Linked DNA regions of Homo sapiens: regions 1, 2 and 3 are each linked to region 4. Evidence: fine-mapped expression QTL. A gene starts in region 4. Each other region holds a variant in brackets. All regions are shown on one strand. Distances are between the middles of the regions.

The links. PIP is the estimated chance that this variant, and not a neighbour inherited with it, causes the effect.
Region 1: its variant is the best candidate, but not a certain one, in a credible set for the expression of RUVBL1 in whole blood (INTERVAL, PIP 0.59).
Region 2: its variant is the best candidate, but not a certain one, in a credible set for the expression of RUVBL1 in whole blood (TOPMed, PIP 0.65).
Region 3: its variant is the best candidate, but not a certain one, in a credible set for the expression of RUVBL1 in T cells (TOPMed, PIP 0.81).

The regions. Positions count from the first base shown.
Region 1 is chr3:128,238,593-128,246,135 of GRCh38, reverse strand. All of the region lies in intron 1 of EEFSEC (eukaryotic elongation factor, selenocysteine-tRNA specific), which reads right to left. Among named protein-coding and RNA genes, the nearest start is that of EEFSEC, 89 kb to the right of the region's middle. The variant A/T (reference allele first, on the strand shown) is at 3,674.
Region 2 is chr3:128,029,278-128,036,820 of GRCh38, reverse strand. It overlaps LOC102723759 (a long non-coding RNA gene), which reads left to right. Exons shown (of 4, transcript XR_007096073.1): 3 at 1,321-1,442; 4 at 3,019-4,826. Among named protein-coding and RNA genes, the nearest start is that of SEC61A1, 19 kb to the left of the region's middle. RefSeq lists a silencer at 361-655. The variant A/G (reference allele first, on the strand shown) is at 4,007.
Region 3 is chr3:128,462,395-128,469,937 of GRCh38, reverse strand. It overlaps DNAJB8 (DnaJ heat shock protein family (Hsp40) member B8), which reads left to right and starts at 3,048. Exons shown (of 3, transcript NM_153330.6): 1 at 3,048-3,324; 2 at 4,502-4,662; 3 at 5,828-7,501. The coding sequence starts at 6,693. The coding sequence ends at 7,391. It overlaps DNAJB8-AS1 (DNAJB8 antisense RNA 1), which reads right to left and starts at 6,344. Exons shown (of 3, transcript NR_037890.1): 1 at 6,211-6,344; 2 at 5,825-6,038. The variant C/A (reference allele first, on the strand shown) is at 2,889.
Region 4 is chr3:128,120,646-128,128,188 of GRCh38, reverse strand. It overlaps RUVBL1 (RuvB like AAA ATPase 1), which reads left to right and starts at 4,377. Exons shown (of 11, transcript NM_003707.3): 1 at 4,377-4,605. The coding sequence starts at 4,465. RefSeq lists a silencer at 4,326-4,385 and an enhancer at 4,576-4,625.

The DNA of each region.
Region 1 (7,543 bases), 120 kb before region 4:
CTGCTATAAATCATGTCAGGAACATAATGTTAGCCAGTGAAGTGACTGTTTCCTTTTTAACGGGATTTGGAGTCATTTCAACAAGAAGCGTGTAACTTCGTACTGCAGGAATATACAAACATTTTCCCTATTAAAATGAAGAATAATTACATTTTGAGCTTATAAGAATGCCCATGAAGCATTTCTCGGGATCGGATTATGGTCATTGGCAATGCAGAGGAGACTGCTCTGTGAATGACTCTGATGATGCTGATTCTATCCCACTGCTGGGGATAGAGGGAAGGCATGGAGGAGGGAGGGCCTTTCTTTTTTCGGGCACTCTGACTACGCACACTAGGTCAGCTTACTTAATCTCCAGTAAACTTATGTTTCAGATGAAGAAACGGAGACTCACAGACATGGGTCTAGGTCATGTGCTCTAGATCACACAGCCAACTAGTATCGAAGACACTAGAAATCAGGGCTCCTGACACCACTGCTGAAGAATTCTTCCCACTGTTCCAAGAGGCCTCTTGGTCACCCCTGTCCTGTGACACTCCTCTGGCCTCCCACAGAACGGTGTGTCTCTCTGACTTCAGGTAGACCTAGGCATGCCCCAACCCTCCTGTCTCCCACTCTGCTTCTCCCTGTCCAGCCTCCTCTCCTCATCCTGCCAGCTGGGGCCACAGGGCTAGGCTCAGGTGCACGCAGCAGCAGCAGCAGCATCTCCTCTGCCAGGTCAAGGGGCAGGAGGGCCCAGGTCTCTGCTACAGCCACAGAGGGGATGGACACTGACTCTATCATCTACCGTGAACAGAACAGACTATTAAAAACAGGCTCGACTCATCTGATAGACTCCCTCTCATAGCTACTGAATTACCAACTCTCCTCTGGACTCTTTCTCTGTTCCAGCTCCAGTTCCCATAGCCCATGGCAGGCTCATGTTGGCTAGTCCCTAATGGGCTGCTGCAGCTCAGATGTGGCCCTCCAAACTCCATCCTCCAAACAGCCTTCCCAAAGGCACTTTCTAAAAATATATCACTGATTCATATACTGCTGGGCAGGAGCGGGGGTCGGGGGTTAACTGGTATAACCTCTGCAGAGGCACATAATCTTTGACCCAGCCAAGCAGCATGTTTGTTACAGCTAATGCTGGAAACTAGGTAAATGTCCATCAGCAGGGGACAGGTTGAAAATAAGAATATAATGCTATAATGCCATGACAGAATACTATACACCCATTTAAAAGAATGAAGAAGCTCTTTATCTACCACTATGGAATGATATCCGAGGCGGAGTGAGTGAGAAGGGCAAGGCACAATGTGCAGAGTGTGATTTGTGTTGAAAAGGGGATAAGGTATACGTGTGTGTGTATGTGTGTGCACGTGTGTGGGTGTCACATACTGCATAAGTATTTGCTTCGACACACATAAAATATCTCTGAGGGAATGCAAAAGAAACTAATGACTTGGTTGTCTGCTGGGAGACCAAAGATGAGTAGGAAGGAAATTCTCTGTACATTCTTCGGTTCCTTTTCATTTTAAACAGGGATGTGTAGTATCTGTTCTAAAATAAAATTATAATTTTAAGTGCATAAATAAATAAATAATACAATAAAACACAGACCTGACCATGCCCTTCTCATGCTAAGAGCCCCACTGTCCACTGGAAAAAAAAAAAAAAAAGACTCCCCAATGTGGCTGTGGGAGGCTCCCTGTTTTTTAACTACCAGTTGCTTCCCACTCACCTTGTGCCAAGCACCATGCTGTGTGCTCCACAAACCCTTTCCTGGGCTTTTCGCCCTCTCTCCATGGCCCCATGACACTCATGCCTCCCTCACACAAGCTGAGCCCAAGCCTTCCCTACCCAGAAGATACACCCAACTGTCTTCCGGGTCCTAACCATCAGTAAATCTGGGAACTGGCCACAGGGCTGTGAGACTGGGTCTTGAGGCAGGATGAGATAAAGCCCAGCAGGGAACAAGGAGGGAGGAACACGTTGGGGGCCCAGCCTATTTTCCAGTCTCCACCTTCACAGCAGAATGGATCCTGCACTGGCCCCACAGGCCTCCCTCTCCGGTGGGTGAAGCTGTGCCCACAGAACCAAGGCCACTCAACCTCATGCGTTCCTTAAGGACTTCTCCAGAGTAATTCTGACTATCCAAGTTCCCTCTAGAACTTAAACACCTGCCACTACCTAGCCCCTAATTTACAGATGAGGAAGTCGAGGCTTTAGGGAAGTCCGTTGACTGCTCATGGTTATACAGCAGGTAGGTGGCAGAGAAGAGATCTGAACCCTGGTGCCCAGGTTCTTAACTCCCACGCCACACAGCCCGCCCTGCCCAGTGGGGACCCAGCCCACAATTTCTCCCCCTCCCCCCATCAACTCTCCCACTTCCCATCTAAAGATCAAGGTAGGACCCAGGTGGACTCTCGCCCCTTTCCCTTCCTTGCCTTTGCCCCTGCTCCTGCTTTGCCCAGAACACCTGCCCCAGGTTCACTTGCCCCTGATCCTTGATGCCCCACCCGGCTCCATGCTGAGGGTTCATAACCAAGGCCTGGGTTTTCAATCTGTATTCACAGCACAAGACCCAGCTTGGGCACAGCTTAATACATCGTTGCTGGACTAATGCAGCAAATGTCCATATCCCTGCCTCTTCTACTTTATTCACCAGGAATCTGTTCCTCTTCTTCAACAGTCGATTTCCTATTGGTATACACAACTATCCAGTCAACTATCCAGTAGGGGAATGACTCATGTGCTCCACGCATCAGGCCCTCTTGCTTCTCACGCCTATTGAGATCCTGTGGATGGGAAATGAAACTGATTGACAGACCCAGAAAACTAAGCATAGATAGGACCCAAACACTCAGGAGCCAGTTGGGATTTCATCTGCAGCCTGATCCAGCATCCAAAAGCCGTCTTTGTTCCAAAAGGCCAGGCTCTTGAGCGGACCCCGTGCAGCGCAGCCAGCACCAGGGACTTCTAAGGAGCCCAGAGGTCAGAGGGACTTGACTGGCCACACTGGGAACCAGACTAGCACTGGAAACCCGGGGTCATCACCAGGCAACTGCCTGCTGCCTGGCAGCAGCTCTCAGTTACTTTCTTTTCTTCATCAAACTTTTGATCAGACGACAGGAAGTGACACAACTGGCCCGTCTTGCCTTTTTCAAAATCCCTAGTAGTTTCATAGAATGAATCAAACAGTGTCCTTCCCAATTCCCATGAACCCAGGGTAGAAAATCGCTCTGAGACTAGAGGGACATAGCGAGTGAGTGGGTGGGAAACACAAGACAAAAAAATCAAGGCTTATAAATGATCCTCTATATTTCCCAATCTATCAGAGTTTTTCATCTAGTTGTACTGACTATAGTATCCTTAAAAGATTTGCAGAATAATTATAATAGGGTTAAAGTTTCTCAGTACATTTAAAAATTACAATTTCCAATTCTGTAAATTATATATCTTAATCATTTCAAAAATAATGAAAAACTTACAAGGGTCAGCATTTAACAAAGCATAAGTTATCTGTGAGGTGTAATTTTCCTTTTGGGACTGAAGGAATAAAATATGTTCAGAAAAAAATATTTCAGCTGGAGAAACTTAACATTATACTTTGAACATATTTTAGCAACCTCAAAATCAGATTTTTTTTTAAAAAAGTCAAAGCTATGGGCATTATAAGAAGGAGAAA[A/T]AATGTTACATTTAAAATAAAGAAAAAAAAATTTATTTCCAACTTATATTTTAAGTTCAGGGGTACATGTGCAGGATGACCAGGTTTGTTATGTAGGTAAATGTGTGCCATTATTTGTTATTTATTTATTTATTTTTTTAATTTTAGAGGCAGGGTCTTACTGTTGCCCAGGCTGGAGTGCAGTGGTGCAATCATAGCTCACTGCAGCCTTGAATTCCTGGGCTCAAACGATCCTCCTGTCCTAGCCTCCCAAGTAGCTGGGACTACAGGTGCATGCCACCATACCCAGCTTATTTTTAAAATTTTTTTGTAGAGGTGGAGTCTTGCTATGTTGCCCAGGCTGGTCTCGAACTCCTGGCCTCAATAGATCCTCCCACCTCAGCTCCCAAAGTGCTACTAGGATTACGGGCGTGAGCCACTGTGCCTGGCCAAAATTTGTTTTTGACTGGTGACTTTTTAAATATTCATTGAACAATGTAAATACATTTTATCAACAATATAAAACTGCAGTGGCAATTAATATCCTACTATTATTATGACCATTTGCCAAATACATTAACTCTCTCTGTGCCTCAGGCTCCTCATCTTATACAAGGACGATGATACTGCCTATGTTATTGGATTGCACTGAAGATTCAATGAGATCAGATATGTAAACAATTTAGAACAGTGCCTAGACATATGAAATCCTCAATTATATTAGCTGTTACCACGGTTTTCACTTCTACATCTGCTATTATGACATGCACAGTGGTGGTCTACATGTCTTCATCTCCTCTTACCTACATCTCAACACCAACTCTGCAATGTGGGTATTACAAATGGGAAAACAGGCTGGGTCTGTAACCCCAGCACTTTGGGAGGCTAAAGTGGGCAGATCACTTGAGCTCAGGAGTTCAAGACCAGCCTAGGCAACATAGTGAAACCCCGTCTCTACAAAAATACAAAAATTGGTTCAGCGTGGTGGCACACGTTTGTAATCCCAGCACTTTGGGAGGCTGAGGTGTGTGAATCACTTGAGCTCAGGAGTTTGAGACCAGCATGGGGCAACATGGTGAAACCCTGTCTCTATACAAAATACAAAAATTAGCTAGGCATAGTGGTGCATGCCTGTAATCCCACCTACTTGGGAGGCTAAGGTAGGATAATCACCTAAGCCCAGAGAGGTCAAGGCTGCAGGTCAAGGCCTGATTACACCACTGTACTCCAGCCTGGGTGACAGAGTGAGACCCTGTCTCAAAAAAAAAAAAAAAAAAAAAAAGAGAGAGAGAGAGAGGACAAAGGCTTAGAGAGGTGAAGTAACCAAGTCAGGTCAAGGAGCAAGGATTCAGAGGGATTTGAACTCAGTCTACTGATTTTGCTCTACAACAGTACCCTGAAACTCTGAGCAGCAAGATCTTATGTCCAGAATAAAACAATTGCTCTGTACAAGCCCCCTGCGGGTGTTCCAGGACAAAACGGGCAGGTTTCAGAGGTCCCCAACTCAGAACACAGCTTCTCAGACTCCAGGGCGAGAGCCTTATATTATTATTTGCAGCTGTTTTTATTCATTTATTCAATGTATTGCCTATCTCCTCATTATACAGGTAAGAAGACTGAGGCTGAGACAGGTTAAATAACTTGCCCAAAGCCACCCAACTAGGGGCAAGAACCCAGGACTGATCAGGCTCCATCCAACACAGGTTGCAGCTGTCCCAACCCTGACTCTCTGCCAAGGGCAGGGGATGGGAAGGCAGCAAGACTTCAGTCACATTGCAGCCCATTCTGCAGAGAGAGCAAGGAGAAAATCAGTTTTAAGGAGAATTAGTTTTCCTCCTTCTGCAGTTTTCCTGAAACAGGGTAAGCCTGGACTTTCCCTCTCAAATTCCTACTGGTACCAGGAAGGTGTGGGACTAACCAGCAGTGTCCAGCCTGTCCTCCTCAGCACAGGCTCAGAGGATTTGGAAATGGAAGGGGCTTAAACAAGAGGGTCATTTTAAAGACCAAGGAAACAAGGACCACAAATAAGAGGAAGTGGCAAGAGCAGGGCTTGGAGGTCCCCAAGCTTGGATATGTTCAAATCACAACCTTACCAGGAGCTTCAATTTCCTCATCCACAATCAGGACCTAAACAAAGATGTCTCCTGCAGAAGATTAGGAGAGACTCAGCCCTAAGCACCCTCAGTAAGCAGGAGCTGGTACTAACAGCTGTGAGCACTGAACCTGGGCCCCATCACTCTTGGTCGAACTGTAACAAGGCCTGCTGTCCCCACTAGTCCAGGCAGACCCCAGGCAAACACAAGTGGACAAAGCCTGCTGATGGAGTTGGGGAAGGGGAAAGGGGAGGAGAGAAGGAGGGCGGTCACGACCAGGCCCTGCACAGTGCCTGTGACCTAGCACCCACCTGGGCACAGGGCAGCATGCCACACTCATGCACTCTCTCTCAGCCTTTCTGCTTAGCCCTCTCACTGAAGCCAAACATTCATGCTGCCCATGCTGCTAACAACCACCAGGTTACTCCATCGACTGCAGGAGGTGCTAGGAGTTTAACAGGCTAGAGGCTCCTGGCCAGGCCCAGACCCTCCAGTGGGGACCAGGTGGCCAAAGGAGGCCCCAGTCACAGGAGAAGGCTCCAGGGACCCTGGTCCTTGTTATCACCATTTTCATGAACAGTTTCAGATGGAGGGGAGTTTTATAAAGCTATTCACCCTCTCTGTGCTCCATCTCCACATCTGTAAAACAGAAACAATAATTGCATTTCTGTTTTCTACTGACAGTGGTGTCTACCACTCTAGTTGGAAACTCAGGTTCCTGTAGAGGAGACAGCCCAGAGGGAGGGCATGTTTTGATCTGAGGCATGTGATCAAGGAATTCATAGAGAGGGGTGCTGCCTGTGGGCAGGAGGAACGGGGTGGCAGCTTGGAAGCCCACCTCAAGTTCTGAGGCAGGCGGGGGCAGAGGGTAAGCATCTCGCTCTGCCAGCTGCACAGCCTCAGGCAAGTACACCTCTTGACCTCCTGGAGCCTGGGATTCCTCCTTGGAAGATGCTGATGCCAGAGACAACACAGTAAGTTGGAGGAGGGCACCTCACCCAGCACCTGCCACATGCCCCAGACTCACTAAATGCAAGCTGCTGCAAGTATCACTATGCCAGCACAGTAAGAGCTCAAGAACTGGCCTCCTCCTTCCTTTAGGACTCACATATACCCAAAGGCCTTGTGCCCTCCAGAGGAGGAAGAGGAAGAGTATTAACGGCAGCATGGAGCGAATACAAACAGTGCCTCCCCCAACTCCTGTGGACCCAGGAGCTGGCCCCTCACGGGGTTTCTTGGTAAGTGCCAGCCAACAGCCTGGATCACTGTATCCACCACTGGGCAGGACATCCTTTTTGTTTGAACTGCCCTGCAAAGGCAGGCTCCTCCACAAACATCCTGGCCAAATCTCACCAGACTTGCAGGGAGACCCCTGAGCAGGAGAAGCTGACCCGGCAGAACTAGACATTGCTGTCCTGGTCCCATGATGCATTAAGAGTCAAACCCTGGCTTCTTGGTCTCCAGGTAAAGGATATGCCATACCACGTGGACCAGAAGAAGTTTAAGAACTCCAAGAACCGGAAGTAACTAGTGGGAACAGAGTTGACCCAGCGTCCAGCAGGGACACTGCAGGGTGCTGCCTGACTGACAAGAAACCCAAAAGCAGCAGCCACAATTCAAATAACAGCCATTACACACTTTGGGAGGCTGAAGTGGGCAGATTGCCTGAGCTCAGGACTTTGAGAACAGCTTGGGCTAACATGATGAAACCCCGTCTCTACTAAAATACAAAAAATTAGCCGGGCATGGTGGTATGCATGGAGGCTGAGACACGAGAATTACTTGAACCCAGGAGGTG
Region 2 (7,543 bases), 91 kb after region 4:
TTTTTAAAATATCTCTTTCTTGATATTCTTTATTTGGTAAGATAGTGTTCTCATACTTTCCTTTAATGCTTTAAACATGTTTAATGCTTTGTACATATTTAAAATTGATGATTTAAAAATATTTTCCTAATAAATCCAGCATCTAGGTTTTCTCAGGAATAATTTCTGTTGATTCTGTTGATTTTTTCTCCTTGTGTGTGGGCCATACTTTTTCGGTTTTTATTTATTTTTTGCATGTTTAATAACTTTTTGCTCAAAACTGGACATTAAAAAAAAAGTGTGTCAACTTTGGAAATCAGATTTTCCCCCATCCCCAGGGTATGTTTTTGTTGCTGTTTGTTATTTGTTTGTTTGTTTAGTAACTTACCTGCACAAATTCTGTAAACTCTGTATTCTTTGTTCTATATGGCCACTGAAGTCTCTGTTTGAATAGCTTAATGTCAGCTAATGATTAGACAGATTTCCTGAAACACTTGAAACCAATAGGTCTCTTAATGTTTGCTGAGAGGCTCTGCGTATGTGTTCAACACTCAGCATGCAGTTGACAGCTCTGCCTTAGCCTTCACTTTCTGCTGGTGTAGATCCTCAAGGTCAGCCTGATGTTAGAGTTTAGGGTGTTCTCAGGTTATCCCAACCATGTGAACAGCCATGGGCATAAATATGTGCTCTGCCAGTGCAAATGGCCTTCTAGATTCATAGGAATATTTTGGAGCTTTTCCAAGCCCCTATGGATGCCCATTTCCCAGTTGAAAAAAAAATCCTTTCGGGTAACCTATTAATTGTCCTAAACATTACTCACTGCCTCAGGCAGTTGTGAAATTAAATAATTCCCTCTAAATGTTTTTGAGAAATGCCCCCGGGCAAAGGCTTTTTGCGCTGGGTGAGCTCTGAGTTTCAACTCAAGTCAAATAAGACAGCCTTGCAAGTGGGATCTTCCAGAGAACTTCCAGACAAGTCAAATAATAGGACTTCTGTTGGAATAGAGCATTGAAGGAACTCTAACTCTATTCTGCTTCCTCTAGAGACTGCCAGGCTGCTGGTATTCAAGGTAACTGCAGAACTAGGAAACAGGGAGAGGATGAAGGAGGACAGAGCTCACTGTTTTCATCATGACTCAAATGTTTTTCCAGAATAAATGCTCCTAGACTGCTGCGAGCCTTTGGTTACTTTTCAGAGTTCTGAATACGTGATTTTGACCATTTTTGCTAGGCTTCATGTTGCCTTTATGGAGGAGAGAATTTTCAGAGGTCCTTACTCTGTTAATTTCACTGATGTCACTAAAGTTACAGTTTTAACTCTTATGGGTATCTATCTTTTCAGGCAATGTCAGTTTAGTAAAAGGGACAGGATGTTAGCAAAGGAAGGCATTACCAGCAATAAGAAGTGATAGCTGCCACGGGAAGCAAATGCAGAAACAGCAGCCTGGGCTGTTCCATGCAGGGGTAAGTGGTGGCTGTATATGAATTGCTCTTGAGTATACTCATATTTAACCCAGGTTATATTTGTTTGCTAGGGCTGGGGTATTTTCTTACAGTTCTGGGGGCTCGAAATCCATGATCAAGGTGTCTGTGGGGTTGGTTTCTGCTGAGGCCTGTCTTTGGCTTGCAGATGGCCCTCTTGCTACCTCTTCACATGGTCCTCCCTCTGTGCACATGCGCCCCTGGTACCTCTCTGTGGTGTCCAAATTTCCCCTTCTTATAGGGACACCAGTCATATTAAATTAGGACCCACACTAATAGCCTCATGTTAACTTAGTCACTCCTTTAAACCCTATCTCCAAAATACAATCACATTCTGAGGTACTAAGGGTTAAGACTTCAGCATATGAATATTATGGGGACAAAATTCAGCCCATAATACCACTATATAAAACTTATTCATATTGACGTCCATGAGACCTAAAAAGGGGAGGAAAGTTTTCAGTTTGGTGTAGCAGTCCTTGAAGGGAATTGTAAGGTGTATTTTATATGTATTCCGTTCTCATTATAGAAAAGTATATAATGATCATGGGATGGACTTGGGCTTCTAGAACAGCTAGTTGCAATAGTTTTTTCCTGCAGGGATGTCTGTTATGGGTGACAGTTATATGTGCAAACAGTCCCTTGGGCCTCTGTACCACCTTCATTCCCCTTTCAGGAAACCACTTTAAAAGGCCAAATGATGGCTCAATCTGATTTCTACCAAAGAAAACTATTATTAAGAGCTTACTCACAGTGCACTTCACTATGATCTAGTCACATATATGATTTTATGTATTTTGCAACATATAGTTAAATACTATTGGTTGGCCAGGCATGGTGGCTCACGCCTGTAATCCCAGCACTTTGAAAGGCCTAGGTGGGCAGACCACTTGAGGCCAAGAGTTCAAGACCAGCCTGGCCAACATGGCGAAACCCGTTTCTACTAAAAATACAAAAATTAGCTGGGCATGGTGTCATGCGCCTGTCATCCCAGCTACTCGGGAGGCTGAGGCACAAGAATCACTTGAACCCAGGAGGCAGAGGTTGCAGTGAGCTGAGATTGCACCGTTGCACTCCAGCCTGGGCAATAGAGTGAGACTCTGTCTCAAAAAAAATAAAATACTGTTGGTCTAGAAATTATACATATTAGAAAATCTTGGCTGGGTGCAGTGGCTCACACCTCTAATCCCAGCACTTTGGGAGGCCACGGCTGGTGGATCACCTGAAGTCAGGAGTTCAAGACCAGCCTGGCGAAACCTCGGCTCTACTAAAAATACAAAAATTAGCCAGGCATGGTGGCGCACGCCTGTAGTCCCAGCTAGTCGGGAGGCTGAGGTAGGAGAATTGCTTGAACCTGGGAGGCAGAGGTTGTAATGAGCCGAGATCGTGCCACTGCACTCCAGCCTGGGCGACAGAGCAAGACTCTGTCTCAAAAAAAAAAAAAAGAAAAAAGAAAAAAGAAAATCTTTATACTGCTATGTTGAGAGATAAATGAATGACTTGTACTACCAAAGCTGTTTTTGATGAACCGTGGTGTCAACTTGTATCTGTCTTCCAGGAGTTCAGCTCAGGTGGGCAAAACCAGATAACTAACATGAACAGTGGAACAATCAGTGAACCAATACAAGGGTTAAATAAGCTAGCAATTAAAAGCTGTATCACTGGTCTAAAGATAGAAGATCAAGTAGAAAATCAGCGCAAGAGGAAAGATATACGAAAACTAATGACCTTCAAGGTTTGGCTGAACAGCTGAACTGCAGGATGGATTGGAATGCCTAGAACCAGAAACTTAGGATGCCTAGAACCAGAAACTCAGCCATTGCTGAGGTTCACTGCTTCTCAGCGCTGCTGCTTTATACACACAAACTGTATTCTCTCCCACTGTTTTGTCTTCTTTCATAAAGCAGGAAACATAGGTGCTCATAACTTGTGAGTTTTAAGTCTTACTCTAGAGTTTACAAATGCAAATGCCTCTAGGTGCCAGGAAAGTGACATAAGTAAGTGAAGCAAGCTGAATGTGCCAATCCTGAGTGGTGGGGACTGGCAAACTGGAAACCCCATGCCCTGTCTCCAGAGTCAGCCATGACTCACTGCCAGTCTATTGCCAGGTAGGAATGTGAGCTTAGACTTTCAGATTTTTCCAGAGAAACTTGACATCTAGATTTTTATGTGAATATCCTGATTTCTAATGCTGGCAGTGAATTCAAACTAAAAACCAACACTGTGTTGTCCAAACAAAACACATTTGTGGGTTACATTTGACCTCTTGATTCATGTGTTACTTTTGGAGTTAAATAACTCGAGGTCTGAAAATTGACCACTGAGTTTGGCCACATCAAGCTTATTAATGACCTTGACAAAGCCAATTTCAGAAGATGATGGGGTGATGCCTGAGTAGAGAGGGTTCAGTAGAGAACTGGGGATGAGGAAGTAGCTATGACCTATATGGACAGCTCTTTAAAGGATTTGGCGTAGAGAGGAGCAGAGAATTGGGGTAAGAGCTGGAGAGCACAGGAAGTTGCTAGGGGATCTTAAAAGAGGGGACA[A/G]ATGACAGAATGTCTGTTGATGCTGATGGAAATAATCCACTACAGGGTGAAAACGTCATGAAAGAGGAGGATTATGCTAACACATGAGGAATTTCATGGGCAGGAAGAAATGGGGACTGGTTTACAAATGGAGGAGCTGACCCTAGATAGGAGCCCTTGAAGCTTGTGTATTGGGACAGGACAGCAGAATATATGGGAGCAGATGCCTGTAGATTTAGTGGCAGCAAGATAAGGGAATTCTCTTCAGATTGCTCTAATTTCTTGTGAAAGAAGAGGCAAGATCACCATCAACTGAGGGTGAAGATGGAATAGGAAGGGACAGGAGAGGTTGTGATTCTGTCATCTTGGAGTAGGCCCACATCTTGGGGGCTATCTTGGGGTGCTATGCCTTACTCCTCTTTTCTGAACATCATTAAAATGTAATTTTGTATTTTTGCATTTAATGCTATCCCGCAGGCCCTGAAAGATGCCTAAAAGGCAGCCTTCCCTCAGGTACCATTGTGCTGAGGTTTGCCACCCGCATCTTCTTGAGACAGCCCCACTAAGACAATGAGAGCGTGTCCTGACCCATTAATGTGCCCAGGTTCCCAAACGCCTCTGTCAGCCTGTGGTCTTGACTTTGAAGTAAAACCAGTCCCCTGGTTGCTGTTTCCCCAGCAACATTAACTGCTGGGGTGCAGAGTGAGGCAGGAGGAGAGTCAGACTTAGCCAGGCTTTGAGTTGCACCAGGCAGATAATGTAGAGGGAGGGGGGCAAGTCATACTTTCCTACTTGTAGAGTAGTGCTTACTTTACAGAGTACCTATGAAGATTTGTAAAAATGCACACTTGGCTTCTGGCCTAGCACATAGGTAATTCAGTCATTACTTGGTGAAGGACATGAATAATATATGTAAAATATCTGGCCATTAGAAGAAGCTGGGAAGGGCTAACAGGATGTATGAGAGACTGCTTCTGAGTCTTAATGGCCAGGCATTGTGCTGAGGCTGTGGGCCATGGAGGAGCTCCCGTCTTGGCACAGGAGAAAGAAATGTGGACACACCGCTACCGTGTAGTGTGATGAGTCTAGGAATTAAGATATACCAGTGGTAATTAAATCTCAAAATAATAGTGTCTTAACAGAAATAAACCCATGCATAAATGGTTGGTTGACTTTGACAAAGTGCCAAGTGCACACAATGGGGAAGGACAATTGGACATCCACATGTAGAAAAAGGTAGTTGGATCCTATCACACCACATATAAAAATCAACCCAAATGGAGTGAAGACTTAAATGTAAGACCTGAAACTATAAAACTACTGGAAGAAACATAGGAGAAATTCTTCATGATGCTGGTCTAGGCAATGGTTTTTTTTGGATTTGATCCCAGAAGCATAGGCAACAAAAGCAAAAATCGACAAATGGGATTATATGAAACTAACAAGCTTTTGCGCAGCAAAGGAAACAATTATCAGAGTGAAAACACAGCCTATGGAATGGGAGAAAATATTTGCAAACCATATATCTGATAAGGGGTTAATATTCAAAATGTGTAAGGAACACAATAGCAAGAAAACAAATAACTCTATTAAAAATGAGCAAAGAAGGCCGTGCATGGTGGCTCACACCTGTAGTCTCAGCACTTTGGGAGGCAGAGGAGGGAGGATAACTTGAGCCCAGCAGCTGGAGACCAGCCTAGGTAACATAGCGAGACTGTCTTGACAAATAATAAAATGATTAGCCAGGTGTGGTGGCATGCACCTGTAGTCCCAGCTACTTGGGAGGCTGAGGCTGCAGTGAGCCATAATTGTGCCACTATACTCCATCCTGGGTGACAGAGAGAGACCCTGTCTGGAAAAAAAAGACACAGGACCTGAATAGACATTTCTTAAAAGAAGACATACAAATGGCCAACAGGTATATGAAAAAATGGTCAACATCACTAATCGTCAGGGAAATGCAAATAAAACCACAATAGTATATTACCTCACATCTGTTCAAATGATATTATCAAAAAGACAACAAGAGAAAAGGGAACTCTTGTACATTGTTGGTGAGAATGTAAATTAGTACGACCATTATGAGAAACAATATGGCAGGCCGGGTGCAGTGGCTCACACCTGTCACCTCAGCACTTTAGGAGGCCAAGGTGGGCAGATCACCTGAGGTCAGGAATTCAAGACCAGCCTGGCCAATGTGGTGAAACCCCGTCTTTACTAAAAATACAAAAATTAGCCGGGCGTGGTGGTAGGTGCATGTAATTCCAGCTACTTGGGAGGCTGAAGCAGGAGAATTGCTTGAACCCAGGAGGCGGGGTTGCAGTGAGCCGAGATCGCACCATTGCACTCAAGCCTGGGCAACAGGAGTGAAACTCCATCTCAAAAAAAGAAAAAAAAAAAAACCCCAAAAAACAATATGGCAGTTCCTCAAAAAACTAAAAATAGAACTCCCTATGACCTACCAGTCCTACTGCTGGGTATAGATACAAAGGAAATGAAGTCAGTATGTGCAAAAGATATATCTGCACTCCCATGTTCACTATAGCACTATTCACAATAGCCATGGCCAGGTGTGGTGGCTGATGCCTGTAATCCCAGATGTTTGAGAGGCCAAGGTGGGAGGATCACTTGAGGTCAGGAGTTCAAGACCAGCCTAGCTAACATGGCAAAACCCCTTCTTCTACTAAAAATACAAAAAGTAGCCAGGTGTGGTGGTGCATGCCTGTAATCCCAGCTACTTGGGAGGCTGAGGCAGGAGGATCGCTTGAACCCAGGAGGCAGAGGTTGCAGTGACCTGACATCATGCCACTGTGCTCCAGCCTGAGCGACAGAGCAAGACTCCGTCTTAAAAATAAAAAAAGTAAGTTCACAGTAGCCAAGATACGTATATGTGGAATCTAAAAAAGTCAAACTCACAGAAGCAGAGAGTAGAAGGTTGGTTGCCAGAGGCTGGGGAAGGAATGGGGAGATGTGGTCAAAGGGTACAAAGTTTTAGTTAGACAGGAAGAATAAATTTTTGAGATAAATTGCACAGGTTGGTGACTATAGTTAATAATAATGTATATTTCAAAATTGCTGAAAGTAAATTTTAATGTATACTCACCACAAAAAATAAGTGAGGTGATGAATATATTAATTAGTTTGATTTAACCATTCCACAATGGGTACATATATCAAAACACCACATTGTACCCTATAAATATATACAATTAAGATTTGTCAAAAACAAAACAAAATCATAGTATCTTGGACAAGATAGAAGTTTCTTTCTTGGGCATCAGTCTGGATATGAGAAATCTTGGGTTGGTATGGCAGCTCCATGATTATGAGGCAGCTCCTTCTAATGTCGCACCACCATCCCTAAGGTTGCCCTAAGGTGTCCCTAAGGCACCCCTAAGGTGTTATCTTCTTGTGGCCCAAAACAGCTCACCATCACACCAGTGAAGGGAAGAAAAGGAGATGACTGGCACAGTGGTTCCTTGTGCTCTGGATATCACCCACGCACATCTCTTTTGCCAGAACTTAGTGCACTTGGCCATAAGGGAGGTTGAGAAATGT
Region 3 (7,543 bases), 340 kb before region 4:
GGCTGGGTGGGTGGGTGGCTGGGTGTGTGGGTGGCTGGGTGGGTGGGTGGCTAGGCATGTGGGTGGCTGGGTGGGTGAGTGGCTGGGTATGTGAGTGGCTGGGTGTGTGGGTAGCTGGGTATGTGTGTGGCTAGGTGGGTGGATTGATGGGTGTGTGTATGGGGAGATGGGTGGCTATCTGCTGGTACAGATGTGTGCATACGCATGCACGCCTTTACTCTGGAAGATACTTCAGGCTTTTTTGTTCTATACTGTTTCCAGAAAGACCCCGGAAATGCCACACCCCGGAAACTGCAGAGCCCCGTGGGTGAATGGAGAGGCTCTGGGGGTTGGATCCTCCTGGAGGCTTCGAGTAACTGAGGAACTCAGGGTAACAGCCCTGCCTAGGGTTGCTGTATGCCAGGGGGGCTGGGTGCTGGGACCCTGGAGGAGGGGAGCTGCCCTAACTGGCTGAAGCAACTTGGAACTCAGAGGGCCCCGCAAATGATGCCTTCACTCAGGCAGTAAACCCCTACTTGGGGCTAGATCTGAGCCTCCAGAGACCACATGAGCCACCACCAGGAAGGATGTACCTGGGTTGGGATGGCAGGGAAGGGATCTGGGCAACCCAGTGGGCACCTGTCATCACTGGCTTGGAGGACTGGGCAGGAAGGCTGCCTGAAGAGGTCTGAGAGCAGAGCTGAGATCGCCCTGGCACCACTGGGGAGGACGTGAGCTCACTGGCCCTTCTACGGTTGCGTAGCCCACCGCCTTCCCACCCCATGGGCCACCAATCTGCATGTAAGCCTGCCATGGGCCTGTCTGCCTACCATGGCTTCCACTGGCTCACCAGGCAGGCTGCCCTTTCATCTGTCTCTGCCCACCCATTATCGACACTGCCAGGATGCCAGCACACGCACACACAGCTCCTTCTCCATTCTGAGCTCCTCACAGTAACCCTGTGAGAGGGGACCATCATTACTTCCCTTTTACAGATGAGATGAGGACACTGGGGCACAGCCAGGTTATTGACTTCCCCAAGGACACATGGCTGGGGAGTGGCAGTGCTGGGGTTGGAACCCAGGCTGTGTCACCTGACAGGCTGAGCTCTTCCCCACTGTGGGATCTGCCCCTTGGCCCGTCTGTCTGTCCATCCGCCCATCCACTCTGTGACTGCCCACCGTTCAGCCCCTTCATTCGCCTGCCACTCTGTCCATCCAGCCGCCCGTCCATCCATCCATCGCTGTCGCCCATCCATCCTGGAGCTAATGCAGTTAGAGGACCAGGGGCCCTGAGGGGAGAGAAGGCCCCAAACTGCCCATCTGGCCGGGCCAGGGTGGCCGGGGGTGGGGTGGGCTGCCCAGGCCAGGCAGGCCTGCAGGGGGCTGGAGGGAATTAGCTGAGTGACTGCCAGGATCATCTAATTAGGAACTCTAGTGATAAGCAGATAGGATCGGGGGTGATTAGAATCCTTTTAAAAAGCCACTCCATTAATTACAGAGACAGAGAGGGGCCTCTGGCTGCTCCGAATACCAATTGGCTGCTTAATCGGCTCCATCAGCTCGCCCGGGGGAGACCTTCCTGGTACTGCTGTGTGACCTTCGGTGTGCCCTGCCCTCTCTGGGCCTCGCTTGGTCGCTGAAGGTCCTTCTCTCCCTGGCCATGGCTCGGGGTTGGCTTTAGGGTGGGCCTGAGATGAGGGACATGGGACATCTGAGGCCAGGAAGCCTAGGCTGGCTCCCCAGAGAGGGCAAATCCCCAAAAGCACCCACTGGTGAATGAGGACAGAGAGGCTTGAAGAGGGGAGGTGGCCTGACAGAATTGACGGTGGAGCGTGTGGGGCCTAAGTGTGCGCTCATGCCTGTGTGTCCCTGTCCCTCCAGCAGGCCCTATGGAGGCCTCAGAGCCCCTGATGCTCCCCACTGGCTCCCCAAAAACTGGCGTGGAAGGAGACTAGCCTGAACCCTTTGCAGAAGGGAAACTCCTCTGCACACTGCCCGGCTCCACGGTCCACAGCTCCCTTCATGGGGAGCTCCCCACAGGGGCCTCCATCTCAGGATGCCCTTGATGGTGAGGTGTGGGACCTGCTCCCAGGTGACACACCTGTTCCCGTAAGTCCTACCGAGTGGTCTGTTCTGTGTGCCCTAAGACAGCCCTGAATGGGCGGCAGTGAGGGGGTCTCCAGCCCTGTCTCCATCCTGGCTGACTCCCACAGACCCATCCCAGGAACAAGGGTTGGAGCAGGGCAGTGGCTGGAAGAAATTTCCCCTGGGAGTACAACGCAGACCAGAGCCAGGGTCTCCAACAAGGCAGGGAGGGCCAGGACGGGGAGGCGGCCACAGGATTCTTGGATGCCTCATCATACTAGGTCCTTTGTCTCTTAACATTGTTTTCACCACCCCTCCTCCACTGTCCTGATTCCATCGTCATGGAAACTTCAGGCTTCACCTTTACAATGTCAGGCCACCAACACCCTCAGCAGTGTCACCATCACCATCAACACCCCAGCGTCCCATCCCCATCTCCTCTACCACTGCCACCAGCCCCACTATCACTATCATCTCTGTCACCGTCACCACGGTGCTCTCCACCCGTGTCAGCATTGTGTCACCACCACATCACTGTCACCACACTTCCTCCACCTCCATCTCCACCCACCATCCCATCTGTGACATCACCTTATCAGCTCTGCCACCAGTATCAACCACTCACACCGCCTTTGCCATCACCACCGTCATTGCCCCCTCTACTACCACCACCATCACCACCACCGGGTCTGCCTCAGCCAGACCCACCACTGCCTCTAATTAGACTGCCACCATCATCACTGCCACCACCACTGCCCCTCCAATGCCTTCCTGATGTCACCATCTGCTTTCTCTCTGCTATCCTCACACCCAACTCCATCA[C/A]AACCACCACCTTCATCTGAGCCGCCATCACCCTCACAGTACACAGCCCTCAAATGTGTACCAAGGAGGAGGACATTTACTACACGCTGCACCCTGAACAGTCTGGGACCAGCGGTCAGGGAACAAGGAATCGAGATGCTCACCTGCAGCTCCCAGGTGAGCGGCTCTCTAGAGCTTGCCTGGGAGCTGCTGAGGAGCTCACGGTATTCCAGGAAGCTCCCCATCCATGCCTCAGCCTGTGGCTCAGAAGCAGGGTCTTCGCAGAAGATTGCCCCGAGCTGTTGCAAAGCTCACCATTGTCACCTGCCTGCAACGGCCTCTCTTTTCCACTCTCCAAATCCCTTGTATTGGCAGGCTCTAGTCTGGAATTATACCGGTGATGGGATTCTGGAAAATCCCTCAGATTTCTCCAGGATGCAAGGAGACCATGGAAGAGGTTGGTGTAATGCCAAGTTAGCAACAGAAAATACAGAGCCCCACACCTCAGTGCCATCACCATCGCCATCGGCACTCACACCAGCATGTCCACCACTGTGTCCTTCTCACCCCTCGGCACCCCCCTCTACCATTGCCTCTTCCACAACCACCCTCACCACCATCCTCCATTAATAGCACAATTCCTGCCTCCTATCCCATCACCACCACGGGTGTCCCCGGCACCAGCAGCACCAACACTGCTCCCAGCAGAGCCATCGTTACCAGCCCCGCTGTCAGTCCCATCTTGAGCATCTGGCATATGTTGGAGAACTGCTCACTCCCTCTTCCCCATGGGAATCTCAGGCCTCTCTTCCTATTGCCCTGAGATTTGCAGAACCTTCCTGAAGGAAACATTCTTTGCCCCATGGATACTGGCCTTGACCATGGGATGCAGCAAGACTGCCACACATCATGGCCCAACAGAAGCTTTCAGAGGCAGCCCAAGTTCCTGCTGTCTCTGAGTGGCACTGTCATGAGAGAGGGGTGTGCAGGTCAGAGCTGATTCTCCAGCCTGGGACCCACAGTGAGAAGCTATGGGAGGTGGGGCCCTGGCAGCTGCCTGTAGGCACCAGTGAGTGAAGTGGGGGGAACTAGATGTTTGTCGTGAGCCACTGAGAGGTGGAAGCTGTCACTGTGGTATAGCCGAACAAGATACAACCTCTGCTACCTCCACCACCTTCACCTTCATCATCACCATTACTGTCACCACTGCCAACCACACCAATGGCTCACTAGGAGCCATTCCCATCACCTCCTCATCATACCTGCACCATCACTGCCAACCACAACAAAGGCTCGCTGTTACCATCTCCTCTGGCATGACCATCACCACCACCACTACCATCATCAATTACTCTCAAGCACAAGCCTTGCTGCTGTCACCACCAGCATCACCATCATCATGATCAACTCCACCATCACCCATAATTACTCTCCCCCTCACACCCACCATGACCATTACCTCCACATCAACACTGCTCCCATGGTCACCTCTACTATATAATGACACCTTATCCATCTCCATGGACACCCACCGTGCCTCTCCCCACCAGCAACACAGTCAACAGCAGTGCCTCTCCCACTGCCACCGCCATCATGGAGAACTGTGCAGGGCAAGCATCTTTCTCCCGCCCCAGGAACAAGCCTGCAAGGGACAGCAGGTGCTAACTGCTAACCGAGACATAGTGACAAAAATCCAGCCACAGAGATAAAGAATCAGGTTCATCTGTAGCTACATCCAGTGGAGAAGTTCTGCTCTTCAACTCCTCTGCTAAGCCACATGTGTCAGCAGGTGTAGGTGGGTGGATGCCCAGCATGGGGGTGCGAGTCGTGCTTTTGATAAGCTGCATGGAGGGACAGCGATGGTCACTGGAGGCTGGGTTTACAAAGTGTCTCTACAGTCTGTCTCCATTCCTCCTGGCATTTGGGATTGGTTAGAACACACACTGTCCCCTGCTAGGAGCCTGAAACCTAGCACCCATGAGCACTGAAAGAAAAGAGAGAGAGGGAGGATAATAGAAAGGGATGAAGACTAGAAAAAGGAAGAGGAGGAAGAAGGGAGGAATGAAGGAAGGAAGGAGGAAGGAAAGAAGCCAGGAGTGAAGAAGGGAGGGAAGGGAGAAGGGGGAAGGGGAGGGAGGAAGGAAAGAAAGAAGGAAGGAAGGAGAAAGGGAGGAAGGAAGGAAGGAAGGAAGGAGGAAATGAAGGAAGGAGGGGGAAGGGAGGGAGGGAGGAGGGAAGGAAGGCAGGGAACGGAAGGGAAGGGAAGGGAAAGAAGGAGGGAAGGAGGGAGGGAGGAAGGGAGGAAGGAAAGAAGGCAGGCAGGAAGGCTATCTTTAGTTAAGACTTGGTGACCCAAACATCTAGGCTCTTTATTGGTGTGGTTAGTAGGTGGTTTAGCATGGTTTTGATCTTAATTGGAGTGGGGTGAGGTGAAGGTAGGAACAGATATTAATCAGTATTGTGAATTGCTGTTTCTATATATGATCCAACACCAGAACAAGAATTAAAGGAATATAAATGCCTAAGAATATTTGGTTACCTCACTCACCTGATTCGTTTTCTAGGGCTGTTACAAATTATTACAAACTGGGTAGCTCAATACAAAAGAAATCTCTTCCCCCAGTTCTGGAGGCCAGAGGTCTGAAATCGAGGTGTTAGTGGGGCCGCACTCCCTCTGGAGGCTGCAGGGAGAACCCTCCTGGCCCCCAGCTTCCAGCTGCGTCAGTGTCCATCTCCTATACGGACATGTGTCACTGGATTTAGGGCCCACTCAGATAATCCAGGATGATCTCATCTCGACATCCTTAATTTAATTACATCCGAAAAGATCCTTTTTCCAAATAAGCTCACATTCAGAGGTTCCAAGGATTAGGATAGGAACATATCTTTTTGGGGGCCACCATTCAACCCACTACAGTCAGTAATCAATATTTATCATCAATTCCTATTTTTCTTACCAGAATTGAGTGGAACACTTCTTTGGATTTGCTGTCCGCTGCAGCCTTGGCCCTGGTTTCACATCCCCTCCCTCACTGACTCGCTGTGTGACCTTGAGCACTGTGTGTCTCTGAGCCTGGTTCATCCAAGAGTTTACCGACGGCCCTCGTGTGCCAGCCACTGTCCTAGACAGGGACAGACTTTCCCGCCTTTGTGGAGCTTACCCCGGAAGACCTGGCCAGATAATGGGCACAAAAAAAGCAGGCTCTTGTCCCCACCCCAGCCTGCCTGAACCCCACCTTGGCCTCCTCTTGCCTCAGCTGCTGCCCAGCCATCGGCCGAGTGGACATACCCAGGACGCCCTTGCCCGCCTCCCCCACCACGGCCACAGACCTTTGTCACTCACCAAGGCTGGAATCCCGTGGCTGATCCTGCCTCTGCCCTTTGGCTCCCGGGACTCAGCCCACACCACCTGGGTCACAGAGCATCCCATTCCCACACACCGTTGTGGCCACCTCACCAGCAGGGGCAGGCCCATATGCCCAGGTTTGCCTGGTGAGGAGCTGGGGGCGGGGGTATGCCCCGCCCCGGGAGCTGACGTCATAAAAGGAGCTCTGGAGGGCAGCCCACTCTGGCCTGGCCCCACAGCGGCAGTGTCCCTCCCCTCCCCCCACTCCTCTCAGTGGGGGCCCCTCCAGTCCCTGAGAATTGGTACTACGAAAAGGTGAACTCCTGGGCAGAATCTTGCCTAGAGCTTGCGGAGTCCAGCCAGGCCCCTGCTGAAGGGCCCCAGACCACCGGCCACTTCTCCCCCGTCCATCTGACCAGCTGGGCCCCTGCGCCCACCTGGCCTCCACGTTCCCTCTCCTCTCACCCACACCCCTGGCCATGGCTAACTACTACGAAGTGCTGGGCGTGCAGGCCAGCGCTTCCCCGGAGGACATCAAGAAAGCCTACCGCAAGCTGGCCCTTCGTTGGCACCCCGACAAGAACCCTGACAATAAGGAGGAGGCGGAGAAGAAGTTCAAGCTGGTGTCTGAGGCCTATGAGGTTCTGTCTGACTCCAAGAAACGCTCCCTGTATGACCGTGCTGGCTGTGACAGCTGGCGGGCTGGTGGCGGGGCCAGCACGCCCTACCACAGCCCCTTCGACACCGGCTACACCTTCCGTAACCCTGAGGACATCTTCCGGGAGTTTTTTGGTGGCCTGGACCCTTTCTCCTTTGAGTTCTGGGACAGCCCATTCAATAGTGACCGTGGTGGCCGGGGCCATGGCCTGAGGGGGGCCTTCTCGGCAGGCTTTGGAGAATTTCCGGCCTTCATGGAGGCCTTCTCATCCTTCAACATGCTGGGCTGCAGCGGGGGCAGCCACACCACCTTCTCATCCACCTCCTTCGGGGGCTCCAGTTCTGGCAGCTCGGGGTTCAAGTCGGTGATGTCGTCCACCGAGATGATCAATGGCCACAAGGTCACCACCAAGCGCATCGTGGAGAACGGGCAGGAGCGCGTGGAGGTGGAGGAAGACGGGCAGCTCAAGTCGGTGACTGTGAACGGCAAGGAGCAGCTCAAATGGATGGACAGCAAGTAGGCGCTGGCCACCCGGCCCTGCCTTCCCACCACCACCACCGTGCATGGGGCAGCAAACACGTGGGGCCGCAGACATAGCCTGATGGTTAATAAATGTGCCAAGTGAGTTCATGGCATAGCTTTCTCAGCTTTGTGGGGACATGGGGCCAGCTC
Region 4 (7,543 bases):
CAGCAAGACCCCTGTCTTTACAAAAAAATAGAAAAAATTAGCTGGGTGTGGTGGCGCATGCCCAGCTACTCGGGAGGCTGAGATGGGAGGATCACTTGAAGCCCCCCAAAAAACTAACACAACGTTTATGTATTTATGTATGTATGTATGTATGTATGTATGTATGTATGTATGTATGTATTTATTATTTTTGAGACAGGGTCTCACTCTGTCGCCCAGGCTGGAGTGCAGTGGCGCAATCTCGGCTCACTGCAACCTCTGCCTTCTGGGTTCAAGCAATTCTTCTGCCTCAGCCTCCCGAGTAGCTGGGACTACAGGTGTGTGCTGCCATGCCTGGCTAATTTTTGTATTTTTAGTAGAGATGGGGTTTCACCATGTTGGCCAGGCTGGTCTCGAACTCCTGACCTCAAGTGATCTGCCCACCTCGGCCTCCCAAAGTGTTGGGATTACAGGCGTGAGCCACTGCACCTGGCCAAATAACAACATTTAATCATTACTTGGGTTGCTCCAGTTGAGGCTGGAGACCATGACTGTGCAGTGGTTACAGGGCACCACTGGGTAGTTGCATCCTGCCACACACAGTAGCCCTCAGGAGGCAGTGAAGAAGGCAGAGGGAGGCTTGACCTGGGCTTGTGGGTTCAAAGTTCAGGTGTGATAGAAGTCAAGGTAAGGAGGGAGCAGAAGGGTCAGGAAACAAGTGATTGAGATAATCAAGCTTGGGCTGGAGAAAGAGAGGTCAAAGGCCTGGAGGTGAAAGAGCAAAGGTCGTGGGAGTAAGGGAATGAGAGGGTCGTGGGAGTGAGGGAATGAGAGCTGGCAGGTCTAGGGCTGTCACAGCACAATTCTGGAATGTAGTAGTCCACACAATTACTTACATATGTGTCACTACATTGATATGGATTTTCAGTACCCACAGATAGAAATCTAACTCAAACATCTTAAGCCCCAAAGTAAATGCCATGTTACACTGCAAGTAAGGCGAGGATGATGCAGGGATATAAAGGATTTCATCGGGAATCTCTTTCTGTCAGCTTTCCTTTCCTCTGTCTTGGCTTCATTCTCAGGTAGAGTCTCCCCATGAAGTAACAAAGAAGACCAGCCTGCAGATCCATTACCTACATTTTCTCTCCTGATATGTCCAGTAAATTGCCAGGACTGACTGTCATTGAACTAGCTGCTCACATTTCTGAGCCAATTACAGTGTCTGAGAGGATGGGATACTGATAGGTCAGGCCAGGGCCACGTGTTTACCACTGAAACAAACATGGGGTGTGGGGTCAGTTCGCCCAAACTACGCAGACTCAAAGTGGGAGAACGGTCATTTCCTGAAGGAAAACGAGAGTGGTGGTGCGCAGAAGTGGGATGGACGCTGGTCAGGAATAACCCTGTCCACTGCAGCAGGCCTCACTTGCTGTTTATTGGACTTGTGTAGCTTGGATACTGGCCTGCCACATTGTTTTCTGTTGAAATGAAAGAAATTGTCTGACTTTGCAGCCAGGTCCAGCATCTTTACACACTGGATCTGTGTCAGGCATTTGCTCAATTTGTGACCTTGGACAAACCCTGTCCCTTCCTGGGGCCTCAGTTCCGTCACATGTAAAATGAGAATGCTAGGCCAGATCAATGACCTTTTTTTTTTTTTTTGAGATGAGTCTTGCTCTGTTGCCCAGGTTGGAGTGCAATGGCACGATCTCGGCTCACTGCAACCTCCACCTCCTGAGTTCAAGCGATTCTCGTGCCTCAGCCTCCTGAGTAGCTGGGGTTACAGGCGCCTGCCATCACGCCCAGGTAATTTTTGTATTTTTAGTAGAGATGGGGTTTTGCCATATTGGCCGGGCTGGTTTCGAACTCCTGACCTCAGGTGATCCACCTGCCTCGGCCTCCCAGAGTGCTGGGATTACAGGCGTGTACCACCGCCCCTGGCCCATCAGTGATGTTTGAACTGTTATTTAGCACACACACACACACACACACACACACACACACAAAGGAACAACTCTGGTGGAAGTGGGGGCATGGAGCTGGTATCCTACACTCTCAGCATTCCCTGTCCCCACCCGTACTGGCCACAAAAGGATTCCACAACTGCTGGGAATGTGGTTTGAAAACCACTAGACCAAGTAATCCAGGGGATATTCCTCTGTGCTCTAAAATCCTGATTCTCCCTTTCTCTTTTTGGACTAGAAGGAAATCCTTCTTTCTGTGCCAAAAGATACAAAGACTAGGGCTGAAATAATAAGTGTAAAAAAAGTCTTTTTCCTTAATTGGACAATACACAAAGAAGTCAGTCCCATAGAATGCCTCACTTTGACTACTAGTTGGTGGAAAAGTTTCCTTCTCCATATAGAGAAAGGAATTGCTTCTTTTCTAAGAGTAATGACCAGGAACAAGTCAATGAGGGGCTAAGCAACTTTGTGGGGTGCTGTCTCTAGTGCTGATGAACCACATGCCCTAGTAACAACCTCAGCCTTCCAAGGCCTGGCCTCTGTTCTTTTAGGCCCTGAAAATGCCAAAAGATTCCATTCACTGATGGAAATCATTACCAAGTCCTATAAAAGCCAACGTGTAAAATACATGCAGCAAAACTGATGAATTCAAGTGTATGTGTTTGTGTGTGGTCTAGAACCTTAATTGAATTCATGAGAAGCCTTAATTGTGAGCTGTGTTGTAGGCTGTGTGCCAGGCACTTAGGTTAAAATGGTAAACAATCAAATGTGGTCTACACCCTCAAAAGGCCTGCAGTTTACTGGGAGAGAAAAACATTGACCCAGTAATTATGCAAATCATTAGAAACCTAGATTCAAAAGAAAAGAAAAAAGTATATAGAAACCTAGATTCAAATGTTAGAATCAAGATGTACAAGGAGGTGTGAGAGGCCGGGCGCGGTGGCTCACGCTTGTAATCCCAGCACTTTGGGAGGCCGAGGCGGGCGGATCACGAGGTCAGGAGATTGAGACCATTCTGGCTAACACGGTGAAACCCCGTCTCTACTAAAAATACAAAAAAATTAGCCGGGCGTGATGGTGGGCGCCTGTAGTCCCAGCTACTCGGGAGGCTGAGGCAGGAGAATGGCGTGAACCCGGGAGGCGGAGCTTGCAGTGAGCCGAGATTGCGCCACTGCACTCCCGCCTGGGCCACAAAGCAAGACTCCGTCTCAAAAAAAAAAAAAAAAAAAAAAAAAAAGGCGGTGTGAGACTGTGGAACTACTGTAATTGGATTTGATTTCAGGTCTGTCTCAATTCTAACATAAACTCTCCTGCACTCTGGGCAAGTCCTTCCCTTCCTCTGGATGTTAGTATCCTCTTCTGTAAAAATGGTGTCATACCATTTGCTTCTGAGGAAATCTCTCCTATTTGTTGGAATTCAGCCAAGGCAACATCACCTTCATGATGCCTTCCCTGGCTCTCCAGGCTGTTCCGGGGGCTTCTGCTCTGGTCTTCTCGCCACCTGGGTGTACCTGTCTCAGCACATCTCACGTTGCAAGTTTTCTAAGCAAGAAGTAAACGCATCAAGACTTTTATCCCTGTATCCCCAGTGCATTGTGGTGTCTGGCTCGTGTTTGTTGAACGGATGGATGGATGGATGGCAAGTACAATTGTGGTGCAGGTTGTGCTAATATCATTATGAAACCTGAAGGGACAATTTGCTGGCTGATTGTCTCAGCTGGAGTCATGGGACGTGATGAGCATTATTATATAGGTTTTGAAGCCTGAAGATTTCTAGTTCTGATTATTTGTGATGCTTTCTTGGGCGGATGGGCCTCTTTCCGCTTGTTTGTAGCTGCATGCGTAATTACACTACCTTACAGGGCTGTGGAATTTTGAAAACTGCAAAATGTTATTTACAGTCAACTGAACTCAGCAGGAACCTTATCTCTCGGTGGAGGATGGAGGATAGAAGCAGGGGAAGACAATTCCACGGAAACGGTGGTGGGTTGAGCTGGGCCTTTCCAGGGAGATGCAAAGGTATGGGAGTCAGAAAACATTGGTTAGTAACCAATCCCAGTTTAAGCTCTGAACCTCAGTTCTTCTGTTTCCAAAACGGAAATAATAACTTGAGATTTGCGTAAGAGTATGACGTTCAAATGTGCTAATGGATAGGACGGAAGGATTAGGAGTGGTACCCGGGGGCCACTGCCTCGTGCAACGCCCCAGCCCTAGATCAAATCCGGGGCGTGGTCCCACTGTGCTCCCGACCCCAGCCTCGGCAGGAAGCGCCGGCTACGGGGGAAGCCAACCCGGAGACACAGACGGAAGTGGGTGACCGGAGCTCTAGCAGCAGCCGCGATGGGCGCAGCCGTGAGCCTATGGAGAGCGGAGGTGTTCCCGCTTCCACCAATGGAAAGCCGGTCTAGGCGGGCCTTTGCAAATTGCCCTAGTAACGGCCGCATGGTAACTCAGGCGCCGGGCGCACTGTCCTAGCTGCTGGTTTTCCACGCTGGTTTTAGCTCCCGGCGTCTGCAAAATGAAGATTGAGGAGGTGAAGAGCACTACGAAGACGCAGCGCATCGCCTCCCACAGCCACGTGAAAGGGCTGGGGCTGGACGAGAGCGGCTTGGCCAAGCAGGCGGCCTCAGGGCTTGTGGGCCAGGAGAACGCGCGAGAGGTGTGGCCAGTGGACCAGGGAGTTGGGGGCTGCAAGCAGGGCTGCTGCGGCGAGAGAGCTGCTGAAGTCGGTGGCTCGGGGCGGGATGCGCGCGCCAGGGGTCTCCCGCCATTATTTCCTCAGGGAAGTGAAAATGGGCCAGGGGCTCGGGGAGGGGCGCCGCCCTGGAGCTGGGTGAGGGGCCGCCCCAGGATACCTAGTGACGATCCACTGGGGGCAGTTGACGGTTTGCCAACTCATGGACAAGTGCTGATATAAACCCACACAACCCCGTCCCCTTAATTCGTACCAGGCTCTATTCGCGACACTGGGATACAGCGGGAATTAAGATAGGAGCTTACATTTTAGTGTAGTGAGAGACGATAAACGTGTACACCAATAAATAAAAATAATTATCTTATCTTGGTGGGGTTAGTTACTGCAGGGCTTTGTCGGCCACGGTCAGGAAATTGGATTTTATTGTGAATGCAGTGGCAGGCTATGGGACGGTTTAAAGTAGGGAATTGACTAAACTTTAAAAGCTCATTTTGGTTCCCAGGATCCGGGAACTGAGGGAGAGAAGTGGGAATTATGGAGAAGAGCAATCTGGTTTATCCACCCCTCCAAGCATCCTTTTTGACCATTCCAATTAAATCTCCTTTTTCTAAGTGCTGGTGATGCCAAGTACTTTCACATACATATTATTTTTTGGCAGGTGAAAATATTGAGTTGGGGAGAGGGCACTTCACGTATATGCTTGACACTCGTTTTAGTAACGGTAAACCTGGGGTTTGCACCCACGTGTATTTCTGACTCCCAAATCAGTGCTCTATGATGATACAGCCACCCTCTCTGCCTGCTGTTCTCTAAGGTCACAGCCATGCCCCTTGGCCTTTGGAGAGCCTTAGCTTCTACAAAAATCTTCACTTAATATAAAGTTAAGCTACTGCCTCTTAGCCTGATTTTTCTAAATGGAAAGGCCTCAAAGAAAAGCCTCAGGTTTCCATTTTGAGCATCATCTTTCCAAAAAGGAAGTGTTTGACCCTGGCTTACTAAGCAGCTAGTACTGCAAGTAGCTAACATTGGTTGAGTGCTTTCCATGTGCCAAGCACTGTGCTAAGTAGCTATATGTCCACTGCCTTGTCATATCCAACGTATTAGTTGTCCCTTCCCCGCTTTAGTATGACAGTTTTCAGACACAAAAAAAGTTGAAAGACTTGTAAATACTTGTGTGCCTAAATTCTATAATTAACATTTTACTGTGCTGCTTTATCATATATCTTTTCATCTGTCCCTCTCCCAATCCACTTTTACATTTCAAGGTGAATTGCAGGCATCACTACACTTTACCCCTACACCCTTTAACCTGTGTGCCATTGACTAGTATGAACTCTGTTCAAGTGAGGAAATTCTGGTTCATAGAGGTCAAATAAGTAGGTCCAAGGTTACTCATCTGGTAAGTGCGAGAGCCAGTATTTTAACTCAAGTCTATGTATTTAAACCCAGAGTGCATGCTCTATGCCTAAGTGCATGCTCTATGCCTAAGAGTGATGCTGTATGCCTAAGACCCACCTCAGCTACCAGGTTCTTGTGTGACTCTGGTCACATCAGTAACCTCCCTGAAAAATGAGAGTTAGACTAGGTGATCTTTTAAAGACCCTTCCAATTCTTTTTAAATGTTAGAATTCAAGCTTATCTCACCTGAGAGTAGTTGGAGTGGAAATTGAGGGAGAATGGATGGAAGAGGTCCTGGTCTGTAAATAAACGCACATCTCCAAGGTTTGTAAAGTCTCTTCTACCTTGGGTTTCCCAAAGAGCTTCAGTGCTGGGGATTATGATATGACAGGGTTGTGTGGAAAGACCATAGTAGTTTTTTTTTTTTTTTTTTTTTTTTGAGACGAAGTTTTGCTCTTGTTGCCCAGGCTGGAGTGCAATGGCGCGATCTCGGCTCACTGCAACCTCTGCCTCCTGGGTTCAAGCGATTCTCCTGCCTCAGCCTCGTGAGTAGCTGGGATTACAGGCGCCTACCACCACGCTCGGCTAATTTTTGTATATTTAGTAGAGACAGGGTTTCACCATGTTGACCAGGCTGGTCTTGAACTCCTGACCTCAGGTGATCACCTGCCTCGGCCTCCCGAAGTGCTGGGATTACAGGCATGAGCCAACGCGCCTGGCTAGGTTTTTTATCTATTTAGAAATATAGCATCTGGGCCGGGCGTAGTGGCTCACACCTGTAATCCCAGCACTTTGGGAGGCCAAGGCAAGTGGATCACCTGAGGTCAGGAGTTTGAGACCAGCCTGGCCAACATGACGAAACCCTGTCTCTACTAAAAATACAAAAATTAGCCGGGTGTGGTGGTATGCGCCTGTAGTCTCAGTTATTCGTGAGGCTGAGGCAGGAGAATCACTTGAACCTGGGAGGTGGAGGTTGCAGTGAGCTGAGATCGCGCCATTGCGCTCCAGCCCGGGTGACAGCGAGACTCCATCTGAAAGAGAAAAGAAAAGTAGCATCTGAAGAATATCTTCTAGGTTCTATTAAGGGCAGTGTGCTTTGGTAACTGAAGTGGAAATGGGATGGATATAGCATACCCACACACATTGCTTACATCATTTTTTTTTTTTTTGAGAGGGAGTCTCGCTCTGTCGCCCAGGCTGGAGTGCAGTGGCGCCATCTCGGTTCACTGCAAGCTCCGCCTCCTGGGTTCACGCCATTCTTCTGCCTCAGCCTCCCGAGTAGCAGGTGGATTACATGGTCGGGAGATTGAGACCATCCCGGCTAACATGGTGAAACCCCTTCTCTACTAAAAATACAAGAAATTAGCTAGGCATGGTGGCAGGCGCCTGTAGTCCTTACATATTTTTTGAGGGGCTGCCATAAGTGTGGGACCAAGGTACTTCACAGTCCATGAGGAATAGAGGTAGAAGAGATAAGATGTATTCACAAGACTCTGGCACAGTG